Linked DNA regions of Homo sapiens: region 2 is linked to region 1. The links come from fine-mapping of genetic effects on gene expression. A gene starts in region 1. The other region holds a variant in brackets. All regions are shown on one strand. Distances are from middle to middle. Region 1 holds the start of RNPC3 (RNA binding region (RNP1, RRM) containing 3). Region 2 holds the start of AMY2B (amylase alpha 2B).

Evidence for each region.
Region 2: its variant is fine-mapped to the expression of RNPC3 in skeletal muscle (GTEx, PIP above 0.99). The same link has a PIP of 0.9 or more in subcutaneous fat.

What each region holds. Positions count from the first base shown.
Region 1 is chr1:103,515,416-103,532,229 of GRCh38, reverse strand. RNPC3 (RNA binding region (RNP1, RRM) containing 3) reads right to left here and starts at 6,531. Exons shown (of 15, transcript NM_017619.4): 1 at 5,968-6,531; 2 at 4,488-4,535. The coding sequence starts at 6,159. RNPC3-DT (RNPC3 divergent transcript) reads left to right here and starts at 6,722. Exons shown (of 4, transcript NR_168321.1): 1 at 6,722-6,834. It also overlaps the pseudogene RN7SKP285. RefSeq lists an enhancer at 6,080-6,319 and a silencer at 6,640-6,739.
Region 2 is chr1:103,554,897-103,571,710 of GRCh38, reverse strand. RNPC3 (RNA binding region (RNP1, RRM) containing 3) reads right to left here. Exons shown (of 15, transcript NM_017619.4): 15 at 16,472-16,677. AMY2B (amylase alpha 2B) reads right to left here and starts at 122. Exons shown (of 10, transcript NM_001387437.1): 1 at 1-122. The coding sequence starts at 108. It also overlaps the pseudogene ACTG1P4. RefSeq lists a silencer at 14,003-14,221. The variant T/C (reference allele first, on the strand shown) is at 5,451.

The sequences.
Region 1 (16,814 bases):
ATAGTCATCAAAACAGCATGGTACTGGTATAAAAATAGGCACATAGACCAATGGAACAGAATAGAGAACACAGAAATAAACCCAAATACTTACAGGAAACTGATCTTCCAGAAAGCAAACAAAAACATAAAGTAGGGAAAAGACACCTTATTCAACAAATGGTGCTGGGATAATTGGCAAGTCGCATGTAGAAGAATGAAACTGGATCCTCATCTCTCACCTTATACAAAAATCAACTCAAGATGGATCAAGGACTTAAATCTAAGACCTGAAACCATAAAAATTCTAGAAGATAACATCAGAAAAACCCTTCTAGACATTGGCTTAGGCAAAGACGTCATGACCAAGAACCCAAAAGCAAATGCAACAAAAACAAAGATAAATAGATGGGACTTAATTAAACTAAAAAGCTTCTGCACAGCAAAAGAAACAATCAACAAACAGACAACCCATAGCGGGAGAAAATATTTGCAATCTATACATCCAAAAAAACCACTAATGTCCAGAATCTACAAGGAATCCAAACAAATCAGCAAGAAAAAAAACAATCCCATGGGCTAAGGACATGAATAGACAATTCTCAAAATAAGATACACAAATGGCCAACAAACATGAAAAACTGCTCAACATCACTAATGATCATGGAAATGCAAACCAAAATCATGAGGCAATACCTCCTTACTCCTGCAATAATGGTCATAATGAAAAAATCAAAACATAATAGATGTTGGCAGAATATGTGGTGAAAGTGACTTTCACACTGCTGGTGGTAATGTAAACTAGTACAGTAAGTATGAAAAATAGTGTGGAGATTCCTTAAAGAACTAAAAGTAGACCTACCATTTCATCCAGCAATCCCACTACTGAGTATCTACCCAGAGGACAATAAGTCATTATACAAAAAAGACAGTTGCACATGCACGTTTATAGCAGCACAATTTGCAATTGCAAAAATACGGAACCAGCCCAAATGCCCATCAATCAATGAGTGGATAAAGAAATTATGGTATATATATATATAACATGGAATACTACTCAGTCATAAAAAGGAACAAAATAATGGCATTTGCAGCAACCTAGATGGAATGGGAGACCATTATTCTAAGTGAAGTAACTCAGGAATCAAAAACCAAACATCGTATGTTCTCACTCCTAAGTAGGAGCTAAGCTATGAGGACCCAAAGGCATAAGAATGATACAATGGACTTTGAGGACTCAGGAGAAAGTGTTGGGAGTGGGGGTGAGGGATAAAAGACTTCACAATGGGCACAGTGTATATTGCTTGGGTGACAGGTACATCAAAATCTCAGAAATCACGACTAAAGAACTTATTCATGTAACTAAACACCACCTGTTCCCCCAAAACCTACTGGAATAAATACAGTAAGAAATCCTTGCTTCTACCTTCAAAATATATAAAGAATCTAATCACCGCTAACCACTACCATTGTGGTCAAGGCAACCATCAATTCTGGACTGAATTACCACAATATTTTAACGGATTTCCCTGTTTCTACCTTTCCCTCCCTTCAGTCTAGTCACAACAGCAAAAGCAATTCTTTGAAATACCAAGGTCACCCCCTTGCTCCAATGGCTCCCTATTTTACTGACAGCAATCTAAGTTCCTTACTATAATCTACATAATATAGATTCTATGACTTCTCTGACTTCAAATCCAATGATCACTCCCACTCCTGCTCCCACAGATCACTCCCACTATGTCTGCTCCAGTCACAGTGGCTTCCTTGAACAACGTGACAGGCATGGTCACATCCTAGAGCCCCTGTTCCAGCTGTTCCTCTAATTCAAAGGTACTTCTCCCAGAAATTTCATTAGCTAACTCCCTTCGCATCCTTCAAATTGTTGTTCAAATATAACCCTAACTACAGCCTGACCTCTCCCCACTTAGCACTCCTGATCTTATTGCTCTACTTGTCCTTTTTCCATAGCATTTATCATCTTCTAAAATATTAAAGTTTATTATTTATTGTCTGTCTCCCCTTTTGAGAATATGAACTATAATCATCTTTGTCTTCACATATAATCCCAAAACCTAAATCAGCATCTAGCACATAGTAGGTACTTAATATTTTTGAACACATGAAAGTACAAGCCTTAACCAGAGACCGGTTTTGTGCAAGACAATTTTTCCACAGGCTGGGGTGGGGGGTGGGGAGAAGATGGTTTCGAGATGAAACTGATTCATCTCGGATCATAAGGCATTAGTCAGATTCTCATTGAGAGCGCAACCTAGATCCCTTGCATGTGCAGTTCACAACAGGGGCCAAGGCACTGCTGATCTGACTGGAGGTGGAGCTCAGGCAGCCAGGCGGAGTCGCCCTGAATAGAGATAAAGCTTCCTCAGCCTGCCAGTCACCTCCTGCTGTGCGGCCCAGGTTCTAACAGGTGGTGGTTAGGTACCAGGCCGTGGCTGGGTACCAGTCTGTGTCCCAGGGTTTGAGGATCCCTGCCTTACATCATCATACAAAGTTAATTTTAAAATGTTTCAATAATTTTCAAGACCCTAAATGAACTTTAGACCTCTTTATTATCAGTGAAGCCTTGATTATCTGAAATGAAGGTCATCTAACCTGACTTACTCCAACTTTCTTCTTCTCAAATGGGTATCACATATGTTCTTATTTTCAAAGATTTATGGTTTTTCATTTTTAATGTTAACTCCTCCTACCTGACTCGGCTACTTACTCTATTCTTGAACATTTCTCCCTTTGTTTTCTTAATCTATCACTTTCCAATTAGGCCAAATGCTCTCTAGCCTAAAAGCCCTATCAATATTGCCGTTAACCTCTTACTGCTTCCTTTCACTACAGACATTTCCAAAGACAATGACTGGCTCCATGTCCTCTCCTCCAAGTTATTCTTGACCCTAAAACAATGCGTTTTTCATTACCATACTTTATTTACAATGTATTATGATATATTTTTAAAAATACTTTTTTTCTGAAAAAAAATTACCTACCATTATAAAAGTACATATTAATATAATATGAAAGCCCTCTGTAATCCTACTCTCAGAGAAAGATGTTTTTAACATTTTGGTGTATAGTTCTGCCATATTTTTTCTGTGTATATGCTAACATGTATACTATTAGTTTCAAAAAATCTGAGGTTACATCATATATAATGTTTCACAACTTTATTCATGTACTCTATCTGGGCTATCATTCCATATTAACACATACCATTTGACATCATTCTCAGACAGTTGCAGTCCAGTATATGGATATAATGTGATTTAAGGCTTCCCTTCCTTTTACCGATGAGAATTTGGGTCATTTCTATTGTTTCATGGCAAAAAGACTTTAATAGATGTGTTCATTCCTCATTTTGCATCATCACAGGATTTCATCTTCTTAAAACACACTTCTCTTTGCATCAGTGATAATTTCCTTTCTAGTTCTCCTACTTTAACTGCTCCTTCCCATTCTTCTCTCCTAGCTTATTATCCTTTGGGCAAACATATCTATTCACATGGTTGAAGAATCTTTCCATTCTTCACCTTGCCTCAGCTCTCATTAATATTTTTAAATATTTCCATAAAAGTAGCCCAATGACCCCTCCAAGTTAACAGATGACAAGTGAATTCATCCTATGCCTTTGCAAACATCCTCTGGATCCTCATGTCAGCTAATATAACAACCCAAATAACTCAATCCTCAATCTAAATATCCTGAACTATTCTCTCTCAACCCCTATATTATAAAACCTACAAACTCAATCTCTATTGAATATATATTTACTTCCCCCTTTGTCTTCTTACTGTCTTCTTCAGATAGTTATTCTTGCCTTGGCCATTATAACAGCCTTCCATTTGGTCTCCTACCTCTAATAATTCTGCACATCCAATCCATGATATGAACTATACCAGATATCTTTAACAGGCCTGATCATATTATGAGCCAGCTCAAAAGTATCAAGTGTCCACCTACTAAACCAAACTCAATACCTCTCTCCCAGACTCAAATCTATTTTTCAAGTTCCATTTCCATCTCAACCCTTAGCTCCTGCTCCACTTATAACTTCCAATGTCTCACAGCTTTATTTGGTGTTCTGCAAGCCCAGAAGGCCCATCTCCACTTGTTTCCTTCTGAAAAAATCCAATTAATCATTAGACTTCTAGCTAAAAGATCACCTCCTGTGAATGATTCCCTGGCATTATAAAGAAATGTATATTCTCCTTTTAACACTTGAAACATCTTACCTTGTAACAGTCACAGAGATATTTATCAATCTAAATCATTTAGAAATTGTTATTTTAATTACATACGCAGTTAGTTTTTCTTTATAGATAATCTACTAAAGGACTGGGCAAGATCTGCCAACTGACAAATCAAATGTAGTCTGTTGGGGAAACTGTTGGAATACAAACGCTTTTGCTTCTTAAAAACCACAGTTAAACATTATCTGAACCAAGATTGTATAAGAGGATCCTGTTGACAACTTTAATCGTCAAGAAAAAGTCATACCTTTATAGCTGCTTTTTCATTAGGGAATGTGGCAAAAGCTGTATGTTTCTGAAACAGAGTTAAGGTACAAATTACTTCCAATATAATTTCAGTTTCTCACAAAGAAATCTGACTTTTTACCAGTGGAGTAATGTGACATGTTAATAAAATCACGGGAAAGGATGAAAACTCAAGACCATTTAACTGATTACTAATTTCAGTCCAGTGGTTTTCAATACTTTTTGAGTCAGACTTGAGATGAAAGCTATGCAACCTCTATCATATAAAGACACACGTTTTACACATGCAAATAGTTCAAAAGACCAAAAGTTTAAAGACCTGTTCTACACAGAGGGTCACTTTTAACCAACTAAAAATTTATTTCCTTCATTTATGACAGATCTAAAGATTTTAAACTTTCCTCTATACATAACAATGCGTAGTTTAAAAACATTCACCAACAGAGAAATCGTTCTTCAAGGTGCATATTTCCTTTGTGCTTTATCTTTGTAATAATGTTCAATGGGAGAAGTCTATTTTTAAACATAAATTATACGGATTTTAAAAACCATCAGAAAAGAAACACAAATCAACAGTAAAAGAATCACTATGCTAAGGAAGAGCTCTGGTCAATGCTTATTAAAAGTTACTTTAATAATTATATCGCACATTCTAATTTTGTCTAATCTGATACACGATGACCTGATGTACTTAAATTGAGCCATATATAATTTTTTTTTTTTAATTTGCAGGCATAAGTGACATTTAAACTGATCAAAATTGGTCTTTCTTCTAATTCAGTAACTCTCAACTTGGGCTGCACATTAACATTAAAATCACCTAGGGAAACTTTAAAACCACTGAGTCTTGCACCATCGCTATTCCTATTTTAATGAAGAGAAATCTAAAATATCTTTGGATATAAAGCAAAACAAAGTAATTGTGTAAATTCCTACACAGGTACTCTTAACAGCCCTAAAAAATTGTTCCCTAAAAGATGTCATCGGGAAATTTTTATGAAAAGCCTCTTTTTCTAGTTGAAATTCTGCATTTAATTTACGCAAGTCACCAATGTAGCTTCTCCTCTATTTTAATGAACGATTTAACATTGGCTTATAAATGAAGTAGGACTTTAAAAAATCCCTTGATGCACATTTGTAAGAATACTCTTGAGTCCAGGAGAAATAACCCCAAATTCAAAAAAGTTGTGAGGCTCTCAGGATGGATCCGAAAACTCAATATAACTAAGCTAATTTCCATTCTTCTGCTTTGTCGTTCTCACTTGCCCTTTTCTGCAGTGCTATGACTAATCCAGACTCGAGCCGATTAAAACTCCACTTCGCAGAGCAGATATTTTGATAAAAAAGAGGTAGGATGGGGGAGCTCTCATCACACAAGTCCATCTTCCCCACTCGTTTCCATTTTACTCTTGTCAGCGCTCCCCCTCCCCGGTCACTTCCCAAATGCCTTCCCGGGAGACTCCGGAGGGGCGCGCCCTTACCAGTCGCCCCTTATCTGACAGGACCCGCACAGACTGAGCCCCGAAGTACTTCAGCAAGTCCTCTTTCTCCTCAGCAGTAAGCTCAGCCGGCAGGTGCCTGACCAGAAGGGTTCGGTCGCCCCGAGGCGGGGAAAGCGAGGAGGAGCTCGTGCATCCCCTTGATATCGCAAGCGGCTGCTCGGGAGCTGCCATTTTCCTTGGAGAAGCAAAAACAGAAATCGTGGGAAGAAGTCTCAGTCAAAATCGCGGCATCAACACAAGCTGGGAGAAATATTTTTTCCGCCTCGCGCTAAGGATTCTGGAAACCAGGAAATACCGAGAAAGAAAGTCACCTTCTCGCGAGAACTGCGCCACCGAAAAGCGGCAACCCTTCGAAGACTCTTCGGGGAAGGGCGCGGTGCTAATGATTTAAATTCCAGGGGTCTCCGGAAAGACTTACAAGCAAAAATTGGCCCAGAGATGTGCGAGGGTTAACACAAGTTGTCAATCAAAGAAGGAAACAGGAACCCCAGCCACTTCAGGGAAAGAAGGTTGACGCTCAAGGACAAGAGGACTCACGACTGCGCATGTGCGGGCTGGGACCGTCACAGGGCGGGGCGGGGCGCACGGCGGGGCGGGGCGCACGGCGGGGCGGGGCGCACGGCGGGGCGGGGCGCACGGCGGGGCGGGGCGCACGGCGGGGCGGGGCGCACGGCGGGGCGGGGCGCACGGCGGGGCGGGGCGCACGGCGGGGCGGGGCGCACGGCGGGGCGGGGCGCACGGCGGCGAGCGCTATCTGGAGCTGACCGTGCGGCTCTTAATCCCTGGCCTTGGGAAAGTGAATTGGCCTGAATAGCAAGGAGGAGAACTTGGGTGTGGAAATACCGGGTATGTTCTTACAGTATTTAGATGGTAAAATATAAAGCTAGCCAGTTATTCTGTCAACTCATTAGACACCATTGTAGGGAGGAGAACTCAGTTTAAGGGGCAAAACGTTGAGAGTTCAGACTTTTTTCTTGAATCAGTAGGCATTTAGCAGACGGATAGGCCCCTGCCAGGGTTCATTTCGCAGAAATGGCAGCCTCTAGGGAGAGGTAACCTAATAAATAAATTATTGCATGTGTGTGTATGTGTGTGTGTGTAGGGGTGTGTGTGTGTGTGTGTGTGTATGTGTGTGTGTGTGTAGGTGTAGGTACTTTTCTCCCTATTTTACAGCTGAGGACACTGATGTACAAAGAGGTTAAATCACACAGCTAGAAAGTGGAAGAACTAAGTTTTGACCCTTGGTGTTCTGACTGGGGGTCTACATTCTAATCCACTGTTCTGCCTAGATTCTGAATGGAGTGAGGCAGGGATCATCCCCGGAGGGTCAGGAATGTACCCCTCACCCCATACAGAGAGGGCCTTGAGGATTCTAAAGAGAGGTTTTATGCTAGATGTAGCTGCTACAGTCTGGAGAACCAGAGTTCCTCTTACAGTTCTTTTTGCCACTTAAATAAATGTTAGAGATACAGCAGTAAGCAGTATACCAGCAATCTGCTGTCATCCCGCATTGGTTGGGGAAAAGGAGAGAGACAGATATTAATGAAAACTAGAAGACAAACATGAGAAGAACCTTCCCCACACACCCACCAAAATATCAGATAGGTAGAGCCAGACCACGTAGACGCTGTAGATTTGTTAGGAGCCCTTTTTATTTGAGGAACATTTAGAAACTGACAAATTCTTTAAGTAGGTGTGTGTTGAGGGGAGAGAATCAAAGTTTAGGTATGAAAATTTCTCCGGTTGCAATGCAAAAAACAGAAGCAGAAAGACCAGTTGGACTACTGTAGAAGTCTGGAGAAAAACACTACCATAATAGTTTGGTGAAAGTGGACATGTAGAGAAGGAACTGGAATTGAGATACGTTTTAGAAGTAGTTGATAGGAACTTGCAGATGAAGAATAGTAAGCAAGGATAAATTCTGGATTTTTGGCTTAAGCTAGATATTATCCATCTGTAGATGATGATGCCATTTACTGAATGTGAGAAGATTGACCAAGTATAGCTAGGTTAGAAACTGTAGTGGGACATTGGGAATAGAGGAACATATATTAAGTTTAAGGTATCTATTCAGTATCCCTGTTTCAAGTAGGAAGTTGAATGTGTGTGTTTGGCATTCTTGGGAAAGGTTACCACGAGGTATGGCATCAACCTATATGGTATTTATATCTGAAGAATGACAAAGGGTATAGATAGAATTGTGCCCATAATGGAGTCATGGGACATGCAGATGTTGAGAAGTTGAGGCAAGGAAGAAGAAGAAGACAATCAATTCCTGCCCTCTCAATGCTTACTTTCTAAAATCAAGACAGAATAAATATGTAAATAAAGTTCTTTTCAGAGAATAATAAGTGCTTTGGAAAAAATAGGGTAGTGTTATAAACCGATTGGAGTGGTCATGCTATTTTAAACACTATCCTTCAGCGGCTTTTTTGTGTGTGTTCTTTGAAGACTTGTTTGGAGCTTCTAGCAAGGGAGCACTGCTACACGTATGCCCTTACAGAAAAATCATCCTCCTTTATGGGGGTAAGTCATCCTCCTCAGCCGAGTGGGCAGCTTTGGAAGAGACATATATGGGGCAGTTAGGAAGGAAGGGGAACCCAGCTAGTTAGCCAGATCAGCCAAATCAACTGTTGGGATCAGTTGGTGACAGGTGTCATGCAAAATGACCGTCACATCCTCCCTGTGACTCTTATGTTTAGTAAAATGTTCCAGACATAGTGCACATTCTGTAAATATCTATTCAATGAATGAATGCATGAAGGAATTCACTTTTATATTTACCACTGCCTCCTACGGTTAGGAATTACTACAGGGGCTATCAGGCAGAGTTTAATGGTCATTATCTACTGTAATTCAGGTATCATGACTGAGTGGAATAGTTACATGACAGAATTTTATTTTCTCTCTACTTAATTGCTTTTAGTTGTACTCAATGAAATCTACCTTATCCTTTCCTTGACAATATCTCAGGTAGAGGTCATAATTTTCTAGTCACTTTCAGTTGCTATCAGTACAGTTGGTTAGAGATGTCAAGTCCAAACTCCATTAAGGTGTCTCTTCTTACACTCCCCTCATATCAGGCTTGACCTAAAGGATTGCAGGAATATGTAATACACTCTAATCTTTTCTGTGTCTGAGTGTAGGTATGTGTGGTCGTATCTGAGAAGTACCTTTCTCATTCCCTCCTCTTTGTCTAGCCCAGAAGTTGCCAAACTTTTTCAGTTATTGGTAGCTTTATTGTCCCAGCAGTTTTTTCTAGCACCCCTTGATGCCACCTTATTTCCTATTCCACTCTGGTTTTCCAGGAAGCACTTGTTTTATATGAGAGCAACAGCCAAAAACCCAGCTTTTCAAATATATGACATTCTTAAAAGGAATTAAACAGTATCTAATGTTCAAATTGAGAAACATCTCAAGCTGGTAGTTCAGGTAGTGTCTGGTAAACAGTGAGTATTGCTATGTTTCCCTCAAATATTTAAAATATCCTATAGTACCTCTATAAGGTGGCAAGGGTACCTGGGGCACCTTAGCACAGTTTGAGAACTGTGAATTTAACTCATTTTCAGTCTTGATTTTCTATGTTGGGGAATGGGAGGCGGGAAAAGTAGTGGAGCTTGGGAGTGTCTGACTTCACTGAGCAATTGTTGGTTCTTTATCTCATTCTTATTCTCAGGGGTTTTGTGTGTTGATGGAGGTCCCCGCTAATGTGGTGGTTTTCTTGGGTTAATTTTCATCTTCATCAGTTCCTCCATGTTACTGAGTACCTTCTCAGACAGAATTACCTTTTTTGCTTCCTTTGGTTTATGTCCCTAGTTTTCCTCACTTGACCACATGGCTACTTGTACTTCCCTATTACATCTTCCCTTTTACCCCCAAACTCCCCATTTTTCCGCATGAAGACAGGAAAACTGCTGGGTCCTATCTCTGGCATGCTTTGGAGAACTACAATAGGGAGAAGGGTTGATCCCAATATTTGTCCTGGCTTCTAGCCAAAAGCATTCCCCTCACCCTTCATAGCCAAGCTTCTAAAGAGAGAGACATAATTATTCTTATTTCTTCATCTCCCATTCACTCCAAAGTGTGCTCCTGACTTCTGATCCCATCAGTCCACAAGGTAGTTCTTCTTAGGGTCACTAGTTACCTCCCAGTTACTAAATCTAATAGGCCTTTTCAGTTCTCATTTTAGCTTCTCAGCAATGCTTGGCATACTTGACCACTTCTTCGTTGAGACGCTATCTTCCCTTGGTTTCCAAAACACACCACTTCTCCTACTGTTCGATCTCACTTTCTCTCATTGCCTTACTCTAGTAAATCTTTGACTCCATGCTTTCTCCTATTTCCTGTCACCTTGAATCCTTCCCACTTTCATTCTTAGATGGTGACCTTGCTTCTTAATCTCATTTGGGGAAAAAAAGTGAACCAAGTTATAGAGGATTCCCATACCTATTAATCCTAACTGTATCTGTGAGTCTTGGTTAAGCTAACCTCTCTCGGGAAGTAAATCTCCTGCCTTCTCATGTACTTTACTGAGCCTTTCTCATCAGTGTATACAAATGCAATTATTTACCCTTTTGTTTAAAAAAGCCAAAAGCAAATAAAATAATTTTTAAAAACTCTCTTCTTTCCACTTTCCTCTTTGGCTACCATTCCATTTCTTTCTGTTAATAGCAGAACTCTTGGAAATGGTGGTTTATATTTGTTGTCTCCAATTTTCTTCTCCCATATTCTGTTTAGAATATTCCAATCAGATTTGTATCCCAATTGTTTTTCTGAAATTGCCCTTCTCGAGGTCATCAGTGACCTCTACACATTGCTAAATCCAGTGGTAATTTCTTAGATCTTATCCTACTTGATCTATAAGCATTGCTCACCAAACACAGTTGTTTACTCTGCTCTAAAAACAGTCAAACAAAAAACACCCTACAAACAACCAATAAACCAAACTCCCTTCATTTGGCTTGCTGAACACCAAACTTGCCAAGTTTTTCTCCTATCATTCTGATCACTCTCTTTGTTTCTTTTGCTGATTGCTCTTCATCTCCTTGACCTCCAAAGGCTGGAGTTTCCCATGCTCAATCTTTTCTCATTTTGCCCTACTTGTACTGGACAAGTCATCTCATTCAGTTTTATGGCTTTAAGAACCACACATTGATGACTACCAAATCATATCTTCAGCCTGAACCTCTTCTCTAAACTCCCAATCCATATATTGAACTGCTTACTTGACATTTTCTCAATGTTGTGTAATAAGCATCTCAAAACTAACAGGCCTAAAACTGAGCTCTTGATAGTATTCAAAACTTTTCTTTCAGTTTTTCCCATCTCAGTTACCTGTGACTCCTTTATATCTTTTATATCTCATGCCTTGACATTCAGCAAATTCCCTTTATCTTACCTTCAAATTATATTCAAAATTTGACTATTTTTCACTGTTCCCACTGTTTCTACCATCCTTGTCCAAGCAGCCATGATCTATCTGGAATATTGTCATAGCCTCATGGCTAGTCTCCTACTTTTGCCCTTTCTGTCTGGACGACACAGTAAGACTCAACAATTATTTCATATATTCCTTTCCATTTCCCAACTCTCTTGTTGTTAGTTGGGACTATGTGATTCATTTTGGTAGATGGGGTGTTAATGAAAGCAACATGTGTCAATTCCAGAGTATTGCATGGAAGATTGGGTATGAAAACAGTGATCATGTAGGCCACATATTGAGGTGATAGAACCTCAAGCTAAACATAGCCTAGAGTACCAACTCACCACATCAATGACAGCTCCCCTACAGAATAACTTCCCTCCCACCAAACTTTGCATAAGTAGTAAATAACTTTTTTCTCTTAAAGGTATTGATAGCTTAGGACTAGTTTTTACCATGAAAAGTCCATTTTAACATGATTAAAAATATATTGCTTCTTCAATATATTTTTATCACAGCAGCTAGAGTGATTCTGTTAAATCTTCAAAACTCTGCAGTAGCTTTCCCCCTCACTTAGAGTAAATGCTGAAGTTATTTTGATCTGTGAGAATTTACATGATCTAACTCCTCCAGTATATTATTTTTATGACTTCATCTATTCTTCCCCTCTTCTTTCCCTCTGCTATAAATACACTGACCTTCTGGCTGTGCTTGAACACTTCAGACCCATAACTAAGACCTTTGCCTTTACCATTCTCTCTTTCAGGGATGCTGTTCCTACAGATATCTGCATGCTTAGCTCCCTGACTTTCTTCAGATGCTTACATATGACTTTCTCATTAAATTCTTCATTGTCAGTCAACACCATCTCTGCCTCCTCTATTCTCTTCCCATACTGGCAAAGGAAACAAAAACAACAATAACAACAACAACAACAAAAAACCTGAACACTAGATTTTTCAGTGTTTTGGTTGTCACTGTGTAATAAGCCATCCAATTACTTAGTAACTTAAAACAAACATCATCAAAGTCTTTTCTTTTTTCCCAAGGTAGAATTCATGTCTTCATCCCATTTGTTATTGTAGAACTTTTCACCTCTGTTATAAAATTATCATAAATATATTTTATTATAAATAATTATGTACATAATTTCATTATTACTAATAAGCTCCTTGAAGACAGGAATTTCTATATTCGTCTGTATATCTTCCAAGCATTAACATAGTACCTTACAAATAGATTAATGATCATTGAATGTTAAAATATATATTAGTGAATATTTGACATATGTTTTAAAACATTTATCAGTGAATAAATTAATGTTATTATCAAGAAAATAAAAAACACTGCTGACAACCAGGGATTACATATTCAGTGGTTTGCATGATGACTTTAGGAAACCTGTCTAAAGATTTCTATGCAAAATGATCAGAAAGTTAAAATGTCAATATTATTTTTGTTATTTATTGATAGATTAGATTATGTGTGGATCTCACACATAGTTATTTGTAGACTTAGTCTCTGCCTTTAAATAACAAATGAACAGAGGCAGGATTTATGTGAACTTTTGGCTATTGCAGGGGTAATTAGCCTTTTCTTATGGGGTATAGCTTGCTTATGTCTTCTGTTCTGGGATGGAATCTAGAGAAGATAGGGAAATAGCACCCGAAAAATATTCCTGTTCTAAAATACTTTCTTAACTCCATTTACAATTTGGAATCCATTTGGATGGCACATTTTTTTTAATGTATGCAACCTGGAAGGCTATTTTTCTTAATATAAACCTATACATTTAAGTATTAGTTGATATGGTTTGTCTGTGTCCTCACCCAAATCTCATCTTGAATTGTAACTCCCACAATTCCCACATTTTGTGAGAGGAACCCGGTGGGAGGTAAAGGAATCATGGAGGCGAGTCTTTCCCATGCTGTTCTTGTGATAGTGAATAAGTCTCATGAGATCTGATGGTTTTTAAAAAAGTTTCCCTGCACTAGCACTCTCGCTTTGGCTACTGCTATTCATGTAAGATGTGACCTGCTCCTTGCTTTCCACTATGATTGTGGAGCCTCCCCAGCTATGTGGAACTGTAAGTCCATTAAACCTCTTTTTCTTCCCAGTATCAGGTATGTCTTTATCAGCAGCATGAAAACAGACTAATACATTAGTCAATCAAAAAATTAAAATGTACTAAACATTTCAGAAGATGCCTAGAGAAAATGTTTCACCTGATAAATGGTACTGTCATAAGTAGTTGTTTTTCTGTAATGTGACAATGCTAGATTATCTTCTCTTACGTAAAAACGTCAGAAAATACAGCTGGTACCAAAAAATTGGAAAAAGAAAGACAAATTAATAGAAAAATGTGTTTAAAGAATATAAACAGGTGATTTTACAAAAAGGAAACCTGAATGGCCCATTAACATATGGAAAGGTGTTTAACCTTACTATTGGTAATGGGAATGCCAATTAGACCCCACAAGAATATACCAATTCTCAGTTCTCAAACTGGAAAACATTATACATAGCTATAAAATTTAATGTAGGTGTGTGCATGAGGGCAAATGTTTGTCACAGGCATTTAGAAAAGTAAATCTTCATATTTATTTGGATAAATGTTACCATACTTTTTGATCCAGTAATTCTGCTTTTCAAATCTATCTTATAGAAATAAAAGCATCTACATACAGATGCTGAAAGGTTGAATTAGCTGGACCTAATGGGGCTACCAAAAGAAAATCAGAAAACAAAACAAACTATTTTACAATTTCAACATGCTTTATTGGATCTCCCTTCTCTGCAGTCACCCTTAGCATTCCTATTTATTTTGATTTTAAAAACAATCTATTATTTATAATTAAGATTCACTTTCAGTTCAGTTTTTAATACTAATCTCACTTCTAAATATACACCCTTCTCTAAGCTCAGGGAACCTATGGTGGGGAAGGTGACGTAGTCTTTTCTTTCATTTTCTTCATCTCTTTTTCTTTCTGCTTTAGAATCCACTGGGAAAAGTAGTTCTCTCTTTGCTGTTGATGTCCTATCAAGGCAGGCAACCAAATATATGGGTCACCTTAGTTGTCCTTTTGAGGGCCCTGCAGCATTTATGCCATATAGTCTCATGATATCAGTAATATACTTGCTGGTTGACCTCTTACGATTCTTCTTCAGTTCCTGCCTCTAACCCCTCTGAGTCATTCACCCCAACAGATAAACCTCTTGGGTATGGCCCTATACACATAGAGTCCAGCTACCACCTACAGTGATTTGCTGGTCTAGATGTCAATTATTTTCCAGGAAATCTCAAACTTCTTAGGACTAACTTACAAGTGGCCTGAACAAAATGACAATTTTTCCCTCACTTAACTCTCTAAGTACCTCTGATCTCCCCCTTATTCAGTCACAAGAGAGGGATGCTCCTGACTCATATCAAAACCAAGGTATTAAAATTAAACTTTAATAAAATATACTAAAAGCTATAGTGGTGTAAAAGTATGAAATGATTTCTTTTGTCAATTAACTCCAGTGACAGCATTGAAAAACTTTGTTCTGTAAAAATTACAAACTGTCAGAAATTTTGCTTTTTGAAATTATGTTAGTGAGACAGGAACACCCCACTATTGCCTGAAGAGCTAAGCTATGTGGGTACTTTGACACAGAGAAGCAGCCTCAATTTTCCACCCAGGTGCAAAGCTTCAGATAATGTTTTTCAGATACAAGATTCCACAGTCATCTTAACTTTGTAGATTTCAAGGAAACAGAACCCTATACCCACTTCTTAGTCCAGGCTTTATGCTAATACAGCCAGGCTATTCTTTCAGCCTATCAAAGAACTGTTCATTTAAATTTTATTTAAACCCCACCTTACTCTTAAATGAATCAGAATGCTGGCTCTTCCTTCATCTGTTTTGGCAAAATGCCCCATCAATTGTGTAGTCTTTTTTTACTGCTGCAAAATGATAAACTTACCTTTGTCAGACCATAGATGTGTCATAGTCTGGTGGTCTTTGAGCAATTTATTAGTCATGCCTGAATAACATTTTCTGTGCCCAACACTCTCAAAGGTATTAAAAAGACATATATCACAGTAGATGAAAACCAGTATGTAACTGAGTTGTTATAGGGCTGAAAGCTGCTTAAGAAAGTAGAGAAAAGAAATAAAATAAAGCAGAGCCTAATTTTTATCTCCGGAATCCTTTAAGTCCCTCCATTTAGTTGACTCTTTATGTTTCACCCTTACATTCACCTTATGCTACATGGAAGCTAAACTATACTTTCTTAAAGACACCCACATATTTTTGTCTTTCTATACTCAAATATGCTGCATAGGCCACACCCCTAATGATTTTCTTGATTCTCATCTAAATGTGACCTTTCATTTGATTTTCAGAAAACTCTTTGGCTTGTTATGACACATACAATTTCCCTTTTATTATAATTATTGGAAAATGTGATTTGGTTGACTTTTAGATTTCATCATATGTCTTCATCATTTTCTCTTACCTGGAATGTTCCAATAGCCTCTTGATTAGTTTCCTCGCTTCTATTCTAGGCACTCTACAGTGTATTTTCCTCACACTAACTCATGTGATTTTTAAAAACATAAATTACATCAGATTACTTTCCTGTTTGCAACCTTTTATTGGCTTCCCATCACAGTTGGAATAAGACCTACAGTCTTTCTCTTGTCATATAAAGCCCTTCTTGGTACTTCTATCATCTTATGTCCTACTTCTCTGCTTCATGAGCACCCCCCATTAGTCATTCTTGCAGCAGTGGGAGTGGGGGTATAAAATAAAAAACCGAATCTTTTCAAATGTCCTTTATCTCTCTAACATTCCTCTTCCAGATGCTCATATCCCTCATGTTTACTCAGTTTTTATTCAGATGTGCTTTCCTCAGAGAGGACTTTCATGCCATCTCTGGAAATAGCATTTCTCCTCACCTAACCAACACTAATAACTTAACCTTGCCTTATTAATTTCTTGTAAAATAACAGCCCCAAAATATATACTAATGTGTGTGTGTGTGTGCACGTGCATTTGTTTGTTAGAAGCTCTATGAGGTAAGAGTTTTTGTCATGTTTGCTACTTTGTTCACCTGCCAAAAGTAGTACCTGGCACGTTATAGGTATGCAATAAGTAGTTGTTGAATGAGTGAATAAACAGATGAATAAATGAATGAATGAAAGTTTTCCAATCATGTATTTACCTTGCTTGTGTTTGCCACACTATTACACTTTTAGTTTTATATTCAGAAGTGGCTAAATCATAGACTTGAGAGGCAAAATATCTGAGATTTATATACCTGCTCTGTTATGTGACCTAGGAGAAGTTACTTAATCTGTCTTTTTCAATGTTCAAATATATAATAGAGATAATGATATGTATATCTCATAGGCTTATGA
Region 2 (16,814 bases), 39 kb before region 1:
CCATCGCCATTCAAACAGATGAACAATAGATGTCCGTCCTTGTTGTGTATTTGGGGAATACTGAGCCCAGCAGAACCCAATGGTGAAAAGCAACAGAAAGAACTTCATTTTGCTTTGAAGTTGTCAGTGTCCTTTCCAGAAACTATTTATATTCCTGTAAGAAGCACATTTTACAAAGTAAATATTAGCATGAATAAATACTTGAGGGCAAACTGTTTACTCATAATCTGAAAAGGATTATCAATAATAATCCTAACAGGAGAAGAACATTAAAAAGTCTCTCATGGAAATCATCTAAATGACCTTTTAGAAATTAATGTTTTTTTGGTTCTGGCAGCACTTTTATTTTTCCATACACAATGATATATTGCTGGGGCCTAATGTTCTCACGTAACAGTAGAAAACCAAAATTTGTTGTCATCTCTTTAAAGATCGAGAATTGCATACAAAAAAACTTTACATAAATTAAAAGGATGAATACATTTATAGGTATAAATGCAAACCGCTTCCAACTCAAGGCGAGTAACAGCCCATGGTGTTCTGGCAGACAACAGAAGCTAAGAAAGGAAACTGGGTCCTATGGCTTGGACTTTCCAACCCTGACAGACCGACAGGACAGAAACAACTGGTTAAGGAGCCCTTACCAGCCTGTAGACAAATCCCAGAACACTCAGTCCTGACACATTAATACCCTGCACAGATCAGAGACTGCTGGCCATGCAGACTCACCAAGCCAGACTTGTCTTCCACAAGTACGTTTTTAGCCATGAAGTGACCAAGCCACATGTACTAAAGACTGAAATCAAAGATATGTACAGATACCAAGGGGAACAGTTAACTTGAATACAATGTCAAAATCAGGAACAAGTTCTACAATCCAGTGCTGATATCAGATACAAGCTTTAAAGACAACTTATTTTCTAAGGCTTATTCCAGTTTGGTGAGGCTAGCATGAGGTGTATGCATTTGCCAGGGGCAAATTTTTACTTCTGAATTAACCCATGAAGCAATTGCTAGCCATCTGCTCACAGTCCATTTAGAAGCATTTGCGGTGGACGATGGAGGGGGCCAAGTCATTGTACTATTGCTTGCTAATCCACATCTGCTGGAAGGCTGACAGTGAGGCCAGGATGGAGCCGCTGATCCACACGGAGTACTTGTGCTCTGGGGATGCGATCATCTTGATCTTCATGGTGCTAGGTGCCCGGGTGGTGATCTCCTTCTGCATCCTGTCGGTGATGCCTGGGTACATGTTGCCACCAGATAGCACCGTGTTGGCCTACAGGTCTTTGCGGATGTCCACGTCACACTTCATGATGGAGTTGAAGATGGTCTGGGTGGATGCCACAAGATTCCATGTCCAGGAAGGAAGGCTGGAACAGCGTCTCGGGACACTGCAACCTCATTGCCGATGGTGATGACATGGCCATCAGGCAGCTCATATCTCTTCTCCAGGGAGGAGGAGGATGTGGCAGTGGCCATCTACTGCTCAAAGTCCAGGGCAACATAGCACAGTTTCTCCTTGACGTAGTGTCTGATCTCCCGCTCGGCAGTGGTGCTGAAGCTATAGCCAACCTTGGTAAGGATCTTCATGAGGTAGTTGGTCAGGTCCTGGCCAGCCAGGTCCAGATGCAGAATGGTGTCAGGGAGGGCGTAGCCCTTATAGATGGGCACCATGTGGGTGACCCCATCTCCAAAGCCCATGACAATGCCAGTGTGCAACCACAGGTGTAGAGGGACAGCCTAGCCTGGATGGCCACGTACATGGCCAGGGTGTTGAAGGTATCAAACATGATCTGAGTCATCTTCTCTCTGTTGGCCTTGAGGTTCAGGGGGTCCTCGGTCAGCAGCACCAGGTGCTCCTCCAAGGCCATGTGCAGTCCCTTGTAGAAGGTGTGATGCCAGATCTTCTCTATGTCATCCCAGTTGGTCATGATACCATGCTTAATGGGGGTACTTCAGGGTCAGGATACTGTGCTTGCTCTCAGCCATGTAGCCCACATAGGAGTCCCTCTGGCCCATGCCCACCATCATGCCCTGGTGCCGGGGGCACCGATGATGGAAGGAAACATGGCTGGGGGTTGTCGTCCCCAGCAAAGCCAGCTTTGCACATGCTGGAGCCATTGTCAATCACCAGTACGGCAATCTCTTCTTCCATTGCGACTGGTGGAGGAGTGGGACAGTGGAGCGGCAGGACAACATGGTGCATGGGCTGGCAGAGGTGACTGGTTTTTTCTTACTGATAAAATCTTAACCTTTTTAAACCTCTGGCAGTGTACACACACACACACACACACACACACACACACACACAAACCCACATAAATAAGGACAGTAAATATATATTTAAACACATAAGGACTGTATTTATATATATATATACACAAACACACACATATCTACACAGTCCTTATGTGTGTGTGTGTATGTATATATAGACTCTGTGTGTGTGTGCGTGTGTGTATATATGTATATATGTATGGTTTGGCTGTGTCCCCACCCAAATCTCATCTTGAATGTAGTTCCCATAACCCCCATGTGTTATGAGAGGGACCTGGTAGGAGGTAACTGAAATTGAATCATGGGGGCGGTAATCCCATACAGATGTTTTCATGATAGTGAGTGAGTTCTCCCAAGACCTCATGGTTGCATAAGGGGCTTTTCCCCCTTTTGCTCAGAATTTCTCCTTCCTGCCATCAAGTGAAGAAGGATGGGTTTGCTTCCCCTTCCACCATGATTGTACATTTCCTGAGGCTTCCTCAGTCATGTGGAACTGTGAGTGGATTGAATCTTTTTCCTTTATATATTACTCAGTCTTGGACACTTCTTTATAGCAGCATGAGAACAAACATATATATATACACACACATACATACAAACATATATATATACACAAACATATATATATTCCATATATATATAATGCAGTGTATATATATATAGTCTATATAGTCTTTATATATGTGTGTATATATATAAATCCTAATAACAAATAAGGACTGTCTTTTGTTTGTGATATCCGTCACTAATAGAAAATAACAATTGAAGCCAACTGAATTCTCAAAATATTTAACTATTTTCAAATTTTTGTCATGTTTCCATTTCAAACAGACATATTATGTGATATTTCCATTTTTAAAATCAGCCCTGTTTCCCATCCTTAATTCAAAGTTTTGGTTATTTAAATTTCTCCATTAATGATTTAAGAAAACGTTTAAAATCTCAAAGCCCATGAATTGGAGAAACTAACTTTTTTCCCCTTGATCAACTCATGTGCTTAATATAGTGCATATAGTAGTAGGATTGGTGGTGGTGGTGGTTTTCTCCCTGTAGGCAAATATTTCTTGTACCTGACAAAATGCTAAATAAATAAATTTGTGTAATTTTTCCTTCTTAATGTAATGTAAGTGAAATGCTATGAAAGGGAGTAATAGTACAGGTAGGAAAAACTTCATCCATCCATTCAACAAGTGTTAAGTGTGTGTCTGCTTTTTGCTAAGCACTGTAGGTGATGTTCAGGAGACAATTATGAAAAAGACAGGTTTCTGTTCTCAGAGAACTTACATTCTAGTGGAAAGAAAAGAAAATATATTAGTAAATAACAGTAATAGCAACAGTACTAACAGTGATGATAAAAATAATTTCAGATAGCAATAAGAACTAGTATAAAATCATAAAATAGAAAGTGACTTTTCCATCAGGGTATTATAGACTGGATGGTAAGGGAAGACATCCCTTAAAAGAGTGACTTTATGATGTGATTTGAAGGATTAGAAGTGTCCAGTCATTTAGAGATCAGAGAAAGAGCAACAGATAGAGGAAAGAGCAAGAGTAATGTCCCAAGAAAGGAAAAAGCTAGTACATAAGACACATTAAAAAGAAATCAGTGTGGCTAGAGCACATGTGATAAAGGGTGGGATAAAATGAGATGAGATCAGAGAGGTAGGCCAGATCATGTAGAACCTTGTAGAACATGAAGAAAGAGAGAGCTGTTAAGGCTGTGACATGGGGAACTGAAAGACTAATAAACTTTAAAAGAAAATCACCCTGCTTCTGGGAAGAAACCAGATTATAGGAGGATAAGAGTGGAAAGGGGTAGATGTTAGAAGACTTTTACAGTGGTCCAGGAAAGAGGTGAGTGGCTTGGACTAGGGCATAGACAAGGTATATTTCAGAGGTAAACAGGCAGTAGATTTATGAATAGATTAGAGCTGAAGGATGAGGAAAAATATTAAAGATATAGGTATTTGGGGATGATACCATTTTTTAACATGAGACAAAATGAGGAAGTACCAGCTTTGACGAAGGGTATCAGGAGAGCTGTGGATCTTAACTATTCCACTGTCGATCCTGATGCTGCCCTTTGGTCCTTCCGCCAGCCAATCCTGTGAACTCTGTTCATTGCAAAACTAGAAGTTCCTCATATTTTATATGAAATATCATACCTTCATGAATTTCCTAGTGGTTTTGTTTCCCATATCATCCCCTTCCACATCCAACTTAGTGTGGAAGCAACTACTTTTCCTTCCACATTAAGTTGAAACCACAACTTTATGAAGCTTACCCTCATATTCTCAAGCATAGTTAGCTCCTCTGTTGTATGAAAGCTTCTTAATTTATATGACATTAAGCTATATTTGACTTCTTTTGTAAGTATATTATAATTAACAATTTACTTGTCTGTCATTCTGGACCAAGCTTCTTGAAGTTAGACTTCATATCTAGTATTTCCAAATCCTAGTAAAATGATTGACATTGTCTTATGTGCTCAATAAATGGCTATAACATGAAAACTCTAGGTTCCAGGTATTGTGCAAAACATTGGCATAACATGGGTTATGTCCTCATTGATTTTCTAAAAATCAATGAACTCTATATTAGAAATTGTGCAATAAACTTGACTCTAATCCTAGCAAAAGTGTTGTACACATGTTGGAACTAAGGCCCAGACAGACTGGGTAAATTGTCCAGGCTCATATGGTAAGTGACAAAGACAGGATTTGATAATAAGTCTGATTGCAAGTCAACATTCTCTGTACTACACTAATGTTTCTCCTAGAATTCTAGAGTTGTGATGTCTAATATGGTAGCCACTAGAAACAATTGGCTACTAACCAGTTGAAATGTATGTGGTTTCAACAGAGATGAGTAGTAAGTGTAAAACACACTCGGATAGTGTGAAAATAAAAAGTAAAAAAATATATTTTTATGATGTTTACAGGTTGAAATAACATACTGTGATACATTAGGCTAAACAGAATTTACCATTAATATTAATTTCCCTAGTGTCTTTTGGTTTCTTTTAATGCAGTTAGTAAAATACGTTAAATTACATATATGATTTACATTCTATTTGTATTAGACAGAGCTGTTCTAGAAGTTATGTTCAGTTAGAGAAGGGATATGTCCATACACAAAAACAAACAATAAAGTGAAAGATATGAACATAG[T/C]TTTAAGAGGGTTACGATTAAGTGCTTCAGGATTTAATTGGTAGGAAAAGTTCTTTCTGACAGATGGGAATAAGGGGAGATAAAATTGACTTGAAGAATGGGTTTGACATCAATGAAAAGAGATAGGTAAAATTGCTTTTAAGTAAGAAAAACATGTAGAAGAGCAAGGAAAATGGCAAGAAGTCAATACAGTGTTTTAGAAACAAGTCAAGTGTGAGGGAGACATGACAGTTAAATTTGGAAAGGTATATTGGGGACACTCAAAATCAGGGAGAAGAAAAAAGTACTTACCTCAGAAGGTTTTTTGGTTGTTTTAAACAGGAAAGTAATAATAAAAACTTTTAATTATATCAGATGGACCAGAAAACAAAGAGATAGGAACATTAGTAAGCAGAGCAGTGACAGAAATCTGAATTAGGATTACAGCAGTAAGAATGAAAATTAGGGAAGTGTGATAGTTATATTAAAGGGCATCCAATGAATGACACTTCCCAGTATCCATACCTATATAAAGTCTCTCTCTACAAAGACTATGGAATTAGCTTGATATTTGTTTTATCCGATGGGATATCAGCAAACAAGACACAAGCAAAGTTTGACTGGGGTTTGCAGAAGGGAGTTTGATCTCTTGGAACTCTGAGATCATACATTGTGTTGTGAGCCTACCTGGGATGAAAGATCACTTGAAGTCTAGTTGTCCCTAGTCATTCCAACAACGTGAGTTGACTCGCCAGCTAATAGTAGTTGAGTGATGTGCCAGGAAAAAACATGGTGTATATAGTCAGCCCTCCATATCCATGGGTTCCACATCGCCAGATTCAACCAACTGTGGAAGAACATATTTTTAAAGAAGGATAGTTGCATCTGTACTGAACATATAGACTTTTCTGTCATTATTCCCTAAACAATGTAACTATCTGCATAGCATTTATATTACAGTAGATATTACATCTCTAGCAATATAGAGATGATTTAAAGTATACAGGAGGATGTGCATTGGTTATATGCAAATACTATGCTATTTTATATAAGGCACTTGAGCATCTGTAGATTTTGGTATCCATGGGAGGTCCTGGAACCAATCCCCCACAGATACTGGAGAGATGACTGCAAAAGGCTTGGTACTATCTGTGGTTTCAGGCACCTGCTGGGGGTCTTGGAACATATACCCCTGGAATAGAGGGGAAATGTTTATGTAAAACAGAGAGGGGAGATATAACAGACTTGGTGGAGACTGTACAGAAAATGGTGGTTAATCAGATATAAGAGAATAGAGAATATAAAGAGTCAAATGGGGACTCTGTGATTTAAACTTTGGGTGAATATTAGAATGGCAATGTCTTTATGACTGATAGTGCAATCTAAAGGCAGATTTGGTTTAGAGAAACCGATGAATATGGGGACATATTGAATTAGAGGTACCATTTTTAAAACAAATGGGTATATAAAAACAATTAAAAAAAGATATGAAGAAAGAAGCAGAGAATTGGTAGTTTTCAACAAAGCAATGACAGTCTAAGAAATGGAACAAAAAATACTTAACTGATTTAACACAGACACTGAACAGAACAGATGCTATCCCTAAGCAACTACTATACAGAGGGCAGTGTACACTGGCTGAATTATCAGGCCTGGAGAGTTGTACCCTTGAGGGCTGACAAAATACCAAAAAAGATATTGGATGAAGTCACCAAGCTTTATAAATGATGGGGTACAGGGAGTAGGAAGGAGATAATAAAGAGGTGCCTTCAAAGTAGCAAAGGGAGTTTTATTACCCGAGATGATTTTTAAAAGCAAATAGGGAAGGAAAATTTGCAGGGAGTACAACAAACTAACTGGATACGGGTGAGTATCAGAATTTAAATAGAAGACTGACTAGATAGTGATACAGGGCTGATGGTGTAAAGAGTTGACAGAGAAGAGGGGCACCATTTGAACTTCATGCTTGACTCAAGGTTCCAAATGTGAAAACGCAATTATTAGGAGTTAAGACAAACTATAAATCCTGACTTTTCCATTTATAACCTGTGTGATGCTGGAAAATAACTTCTCTAAATGTATCTATTAACTAGAAAAAGTAATGTTTACCTCATAGAGTTATTGTGATTAAACGAATAATGCAAATAAAGCTGTTATCCCAATGTATGGATATGGTAAAAGCTCAATATGGTTGATAATGTTATTTTTGTATTGATATTTTTACCTGGTCCTATTAAAAATCCTATCAACTCATACTGTCTTTCCGCCTTCGCTCTACTAACACTTGGCCATTCTGTCTTCCCATTCTACCCTTCTTAACTTCTAATACTTTCTACTTCTCAGAAGTATTTTCATTTCCAGTAAAGGAATGGACAGAGATGAAAAAGAATCACCAATATTTTCTACCTGCAATTTTTTCCTTCCTTCCCTCACAGTATTCTTCTTGCTTATTCGCTTAGGATTTCTGGCAGATCCATGGTAGTTTTGAAATATACTTTTCAACAATGCCAGATCAATGAACTCTGTTCTTGTAATAGCAAATCAGCATTTTTCACAATGCATTTGGAATGTTGGTAAAAAAAAAGGGATAATTTGCAGATATAATTTAGGGAATTTAGCACTGCATGAAAGGTAGAGTTAGACACACATATAATAAGCTTCTACTAAGAGTCAGGCATTATCATATATTTTCTCATTTGATCTTAATTTTCACCTCAAACAAGCAATCTGAAGAGCTATATACCCCATAGGAGAAGCATTAAAACAATTAAAGTATATTTATGTCTTCTGAAATAAAAATCTGCACAAACAATTCTTAGCATCTTCGGCATCAAAAACACAAAAATAAGGATTTAAAATAGTTGTTATATCTACTTTCTGAAATAGTTATTCTAAAAGAGTTATCCTTAGAGAAGCTATTCAGTTATTAGTAATATACGGCATTATTGCCCATATTTTGTACTTCCTAGAATGCTCTACAAAGAGAAAACTTCCCTTTACTCTAAAGCTCTAACGGTTACTATCATGTGCCAAATGACATATCTTGGGAATTCCCTAAGAATATGAAATAGGACATTTGATAATATCCTGACGACAAAGCAATAGTCACTAAAGATTTATATTTGGAGTGTCAAAACATATTCTCTCTTCTCATTTGGGCTCATATAAAAAATAAAATATATCCGGTATCAAGAATTAACTCAAAATTAGCCAGTTTCTGAGGGTCTCAAAAGTATTTTTTCAATCAATATCATATATGAGGTATCTATTTTGACATCCATAATATAAATGGCATTATAGGGAAACGGCTCTAGTGTAAACTCAGTATCCCTCTTGACACATCAAGTACCATAAATTTAATCATTTAGCTCAAAGCCTACTTAAATCACACCAAAGCCTTGACTTAAATAAAATGAAAGAGCTCTATTGTTAAGCAGAAAGTAGCAACTTCCAAATAACTTGTCTTTCTAGAGCTCCCTTTCTACTTATATAACTATCAGTTATTTACAAGTTCTTTCCCCCTATCCAAAGTAGCCTCACATTTATACCAGATATTATAGTTTTTTAACATGCAAATGAATTAACATTGACAAAAAAAAAAAAAAAAAAGACAAGTTATCTATTAATGTCATTCGTAGTTCTTAGCCTAGATGCCTTATAAATATCTTTGGAAGTAATTTAAGTGTGATTAAAAATTACAACTGAAATACCTTAATGTCACATTTATGAACTTGATCAAGTTAGTTGTTTCTCTTACTAAAAAATAAAGTCTTAATTCCTCTGAGTTTTGCAATAAATTAGGTACAATTTTCTCAAAATAGTAAACCTTCAACCACCAGCCCTTCCCCCAACAGTTTTCTGTTTTTCTTTTGAAAATAAAATAAGAAAGAAAATAAACCTGAACTCAGGATAAGTTGCAATGTAAAGGTTAGAGAAAAGAAAGCACAGATAATCAAGTTTGCCTAACAGATCTCTGAAATCAGAGAAACCTTTTGAGCCAAGGCTAAGACACATTTTCAATATAAATAGTACATTTTGTACTGCACAGCACTGAAACATGATTTGTCAACAAACTGAAAATAGATTGTGAAACTCTATATCAAATCATGTGACAGAAACCACTTATTTCAAGACAAAAAGTTGGAGGAGGACTTACATAATACTCAAAAAACATTAAAACAACTTACCACATTAACTTCTCTCAATCAGCAATCTCCCAAACCCACAGTTGAGTGTTTTACAATCATAAAATAAAAATCTCACAGTTCTGGTTTTGCTTTTTCTTCAGTTGGAAAAAAAATTGCTGAATTTAGAATCTTATAGATTTTCTATAACCTCTTACTTTCAATATGTGGCCCTAGAGTCCTACTCCAATTCTCCAAATCAGATTTGTACAAGGAATCTTCTCTGAACTCCAGTATTACAACAGGTTGATCACCACACTCCTGTTTCCTAAGCAAACCACTGTCTTCTCTCCTCTGCTCAGTTTGCTGCCCTGCCACCTCTTCTTACTACACTATATCTCGTCTGCTTTCTGTCTTCCTTCCTTTTTCTACAATATCCTCTCGCAATCTCTATTTCTTTTCCCTGAACCATTTATATTTATAATATATAGGGAATATATAGATAATAAACATATAGGGAATAAAATAATCTTAATAAAATAACCTTAAAAATAAAATAACCATATAAAATAAAATAACCTTAAAGACCCGATTGGCATAGGGCTGGGTTAAATTAGTTAAATGAGACTAGAATGTAAGCAGTGTCACTAAATCAAAAATTTAACTCTTTGAGACCAGCCTGGCCAACATAGCAAAACCCTGTCTCTACTAAAACTACAAAAATTAGCTGGGCATGGTATCTGGCACCTGTAATCCCAGCTACTTAGGAGGCAGAGGCAGGAGAATTGCTTGAACCCAGGAGGTGGAGGTTGCAGTGAGCCGAGACTGCGCCACTGCACTCCAGCCTGGGCAACAAGAATGAGACTCCGTCTCAAAACAAACAAAAAACCAAAAAAAAATTAACTCCATGCATCACCATCTACTAGATGCTTCACCATGTACATTTTTTTCTGTATGAACCTTAGAAAAAAATTAAAGTCTATGGATTTCATACTAGGTTCTCAATTAGGAAATGAAGATATTGTTGATAAATATAAAAATAAAATAACCACTAACAACATATAGTTACTATGTGCCATTTCTATGCATTATCACTTTTACTTATCACACACGCGTACCCTACATGATAGAAATATGATTATCCTCATTTTTAAAATGAGAAAAAAACACTAAAAAATTAAATAATGGGATTTATTAATGGTCAAATTGTAGTACATGTTGGGACTGAATTTCAAAGCCAAGAAGCCTAACTCCACAGTGAGCTCTTACCTACTAATCAGTCTTATATTCCCTTTCATTGGATTGTTAGAAAAATCAAATAAAATATTATATGAAAATATTTTAAAACCTGAGTTCTGCTTAATCTGATTAATTTTTAAAAGATTAACAGTAGAAAAAATTCTGCAAAAATAATGTCTTGGAGGATTAAAAATACAGAAGTAATTTCAAAAATAAAAACAACTGCAAACTGGAATAAAACAGTGTTCAAGTATTCTAAGGTCACATTATTGTCTTTGGCAATGGACATAGGCATTAACTTTGGACTGTGAGAATATGCATGGGTATAATCAGTGCTAATCATTAACAAAACAGAAAATGTGCCTAATTCCTGTGGTATAGGGTAAAAAAAATTCAATGTAAATTGATTAAATGTTTCTGCTAAATGCATTTTTAGACAGATTTTTTAAAAACAGATAGAAAAAAGGTAAAGGTAAAGCTAGAACCAAATAAATGATGTAAATTCTAACCAAAGGAAAGACAGTGAGGCTTTATTAGTATTGGACAAAGATCTAAGGCAAAATTAATACCACAGTAAAATGGTTGTACATTTATAATTAAAAATGTTTGACTCTCTGACTAGAAATTCAACAAATATATGTTTACTCACCTTATAACATGTTTAAAATTACTAAAGCAAAAATATTGACAGTACAATAATAGGGAAATCTACAATTATGAGAGAGTTTTAACAACCTTATTAAGAGCAGGCAGATTTCAACAAGTTTTAATTAACCTGACCAAATGCACATACGGAGAACACATTATTTTTTTAATTGTCTATATACAGTCAGAAGTTGAGTCTTTTAAAGGATTGAAATAAAAAAGAATATTCTAATTGGACTAAGATCATATAGTATGCACTTGTTAATATGAACATTTCCAAATATTTTGTTGTTATAAGAAGTGTTATAATGAACATCTGTATACATGTTTACACATAGGTAATTCTGTAGACTAAACGTAGTGAAACTTGAAGCACATTTTTATATTTTCATATTATGCAAAATTGCCCTTACAAACCTGTCAGTTTTTACTCTCTAGTAGCAATATATTATAGTACCTTTTGTCACACTCCCACCAAAAATATTATCGCTCTGATTTTTGCCTAATAGATTAAAAATGATTTGTGCTTTTCCCAATTACTAGCAAGACTGAACATCATTTCACATTTTTTGGCCTTTTGAGTTTTCTCTTGAAATTTGCTTCCTTTTTCCATCTTCTTTTGCTTTTATTATTTTTCTTATTGAATGTTTCCAGTTCTTATGTTATTATCGTTTGTCATGTATTGCAAATATATTTTCCTAATATATCACTGCTTTTTGAAGGCTTCCCAGTGTAAATCTAAGTAATCATGAATGCTGGTATGAATTAGGACAGTGCCAAAGGTATGCCTGTATTATTATTTTTTGTCCAACTACAGTCATGCATTGCTTAATGACAGGAGTATGTTCTGAAGAGAAAGCCCTTAGGTAATTAAGCCACTGTGCAAATGTCATAGAATGGACTTCCATAAACGTAGATGGCATAGCCTATTCCTCCTAGGCTACAAACCTGTAAGGCATGTTATTGTACTGAATATTATAGGCAACTGTAACACAGTGTACTTGTGTACCTAAATATATTTAAACATAGGAAACTTCCGATAAAAATATGGCATAATAAACTTAACTGGACCACCATCATATATGCGGTGCACGACTGTATTCACCATGCAAAAGGTTTTAAGTTTTAAAGTGATTATTTGTTTAACTACAGTGGTTCCTCGTCCCTCCATATCCATGAGGAATTGGTTCCAGGACCCACCATGGATACTTAAAGCAACAACTGCTCGAGTCTTTTATATACAATGTAGTATTTGCATGTAACTTTTACATCATCTCAGATTACTTATAATAACTAATGCAACGTAAATGCCATGTCAAAACTTGTTATATTATGTTGTTTACAAAATAATGACGAAAAAAACTCAATACATGTTCAGTATAGATGCAACCATCCTTTCTCTTGTCTTATCCTTAGATCTTGTTTAATAAGATTAAAGACTAAGTGGTAAGGAGGATGGGAAGAGAGACAGAGGAAAAATGTATTAATGACAGCTTTTTTTTTTTTTTTTTCAGTTGGGGTCTCCCTATGTCACCCAGGCTGGAGTGCAGAGATGCAATCACGGTTCACTGCAGCCTCAAATTCCTGAGCTTAAGTGGTCCTCCCTCCTCAGCCTCCCAAGTTGTTGGGATTACAAGCATGACTAATTATGCCCAGCAATGGTAGGTTTTTGTTGTTGTTGTTTACAAAGTTAAATGTCATCATTTTTTATACTGAAATATCTTTTAATACTTTTTTTTGAAATATTACTGATTATTTAGAACCCAAAGTCTGGACCATTGAACAAGTTCATTCCAATAGTCTCTTTCACTGTTAATATTCTCTGATCCTATGATTTATTCTTCTCTTGACTTTCTACATCCTAATGGAAATATGAAAATCAAAGAGCTTAAGGAAATGTTGTGGCTGTATCAATCAGGACAGAATAGGTTATTCTGCAGTAATAAAAGAAACTAAAATTTTTCAGTGGCTTACAATAACCAAGTTTCTCATGTTCAACTAGGATCAACAAAGGCACTCTTATTAGTCCCTTTGTAATGTCACAAAAACTTCATTTTGACACATGCTTTAGCAATCGGGAACTCCCCAAAGTAAAACAATCTTTCTGCTCACATTTCACAGCCAAAACAAATCACATGGACATTCCCAAATTCAACAGGATGGGAGTATTTCATTTGCAGGGCGGATCACTAATATTTATGAACAATAGTATATTGCATATATGAGATCAGAAATAAAAACTAACAGGAAAAATAAAAGAATTTTCATTGGAGTGAACATTTGAAAAATAAGAAATGCGAGTTTAAATATATAAAGAAAAATACAATATATAGAGCTTCTCACCTCCATCCTTTCCTTCGATAGCAAGACATTCAATTTCTTCCAAGTTTGTATGATCATTTCTATGCATGTTTTTATGACTTACTTCATCTAATGTTCCCATAAATAACATATAATGGAATTTTATGTAGTTACCTTTTTCTAAGCTTTGAAAAGTTTCATAAAACTGCTCACATCTTCTTAAATTTTGGATATTCAAAGATCACGGTATACAAATACCATATTAAGTGCTATTTTATAATTTACAAAAAATTAAAATTTCTTATGTAAAATACTTTTTTTTTTTTTAATCTAACTCCATCACTGAAGCTGGAGTGCAGTGGCCCAATCTCGGCTCACTGCAACCTCCACCTTCGGGTTCAAATGATTCTCCTGCCTCAGCCTCCCGAGTAGCTGGGACCACAGGCATGAGCCACCATGCCCAGCAATTTTTTTTGTATTTTTAGTAGAGACGAGGTCTCATCGTGTTGGCCAGGCTGGTCTCAAAATCCTGACCTCACGTTGATCCACCTGCGTTGGCCTCCCAAAGTGCTGGGATTACAGCCGTGAGCCACTGCACCTGGCCTCTTTCTTAATTTCTAATTGATAACCTTTTAAATAGATACAACCACCTCAAGTCTTTATATATTAGTCACAGATGTTCCAGTCTTACTTGATATCCTGGCTTTTTCTTCATTGCTTAGACCTTGTGCATGTTGGGTACAGGGTATATATTTCCTGATGCTTATTCAATGTTTTGTGTGTATGTATGTATGTATGTATGTGTGTGTGTGTGTGTGTGTGCGCGCGCGCACGCTTTAAGATTTCCTATTAGCTTTTAAATGGACGCTCTATATACCGTTTGTTTTCAGAAAATATAGGGTGGGACATTTTGCAGCTTAAGTACTTGGGATGAGAACTCTATTCTTCTTGAAAATCATCAGTTGTATCTCTTAGGTGTCTGACACAGGGGGTTAGCTCACATATCTACTGAATAATCCTACTGAGGTCATTATTTGTTAGCATGAATTACTAAAGATAATTAAATGTAATAAAGTATCTTACAGTTGACACATTAAAGAGCTTTCCATTACTCACAAAAGGAAGTGCTGTCTTCTCACAGGGTAGTAAAGATAAAATAATTACAAAAAGCACTCAGCACAGTTCTTGTTGAGATTTCAAAATTCATTTAGATAATGCTTTCAATCTCCTAGGTTCCCAATTTCTTGAATTCATCTCCTTCCATCACCTTGCCTCTATGCTACTCCCATCCTCACATCCTAAAACTTATAATCACTAAGTACTATATACTTAGTACTATTATACTATACTTAGTATACTATACTTAGTACTATTATACTATACTTAGTATACTATACTTAGTACTATTATATATTATTATACTCTAATTTCAATTTCAGCCACCCCACTCTTATTTAAATCTCCCAAATTTCTAGTTTGTACCTCAAGAACTCCAATGCATCTTCAACCACACTGCAATCTACAATTGATGATACCATTTTCCACTGTCTCAACCTTCTTTATTTTCTCACTTCACTCCTTAACCCAGATTACTTTCCATATCTCTCTTTTATTATCTTTCTCTTAAATGTAACAACATCTCATCACTGTCTTATTCACCTAGGGAAATCTCAACTTTAGTTAAATTGAATTCTGTACTTTTTCAGTGATAGCACCTATGCTGAACTCAACTGGAGAAAAACACAAAACCACATTGACTGATACCACTTAAATAAACCACAGATTGCCTAAGAGTATGTTTACTTTCCTACATTCCTGGATACCCATTTTACATCTCCTTTTCCTTCCTTAATCCTTCATGACTTCCTCCCTCTTTATGACCTTGTTTCCTATTTCTCTGAGAAAATATAACAAAAATTTGACATGCTCCTATTTACTGAACTACCGACATCTAGAACTCCATAATCTGCCCTTCATCCTACCGTTACTAATGAGCTGTTTGTGTGCCTATCTTTAAAACGAACCCTTCTATTTGTATACCAGGTCTATGGCTTCAGCAATATCCCTCTCTTTCCGGCATTATGTTTTTTCTCTCTACTGAATCAGTCTGATTAGCATACAAACCTGCTATATCATCAATCTTAAACAGCTTTTTGATACTACATTGCCCTCCATTAACAACCCATTTCTCACAACCCCTTGAACGCAAGACTCTTTAAGAGTTGTCTTCGATACTCACTATATTAAATTCTTCTTCAAAATTCTCTTGAATACCCTTACTCCTGACATCCACCAAGTTTGTCAACGTCAAGTTGACAAAAAAGAATGTTTTCCTACGTATATACAGCTGAAACTCATTTCATTAAAGGAACAGAATAATTTTATGTGGGAAATATTTTCACCTTTGAGTGACGTTCTGACAGATGAAAGATTTGGGGGAACAAAAATGGAAGACTGTATTACAGCAAGGATACAAATTTCTAAATTGGGATAAACCCCCATTTCCAAAAAACCAAAAGCCCAGTAAAACTCAAAGCCAGACAAATATAAAATAATTACAAAAAACAAGATTACAATAAAAAAAATGTGAAAGTGCTTTGGTATCCAGGTAAGAATTTTTAAAAGGCAGTATTTGTAATCATAAAAAAATTATATTACAAATTATATATATTTTTTATAATATTATGTTTTCCTAGATGTGTTAAACCAGATAAAGAAAAAATACAAACACTATTTTATTGGAAAGGAAACAATTTATTATATTTGAGGAAAATCATTAAAATACATGTAATATGTTTCCAATTCACTGATTTAAAGGCATATAGATTTAATTTTTAAATACACTTTCAAAGCTGTTACGCACAGTTCCATAGTCCAGGTGGTCAATTTCTTCCTCTCAAAGTTAGAAAGCACTTGAAGGACACGGGATTCAAAAAAACCTAAAACATCATAAAAGCCCATTAAAAATAGGAAGTATAACACAGGTCATTAGTTTAAAAATAACTAAGAGCTGAACCATTTATATTTAGAAAATTAGTGAATCATGTCAGTATAACAAAATTTATCTAAATAAACC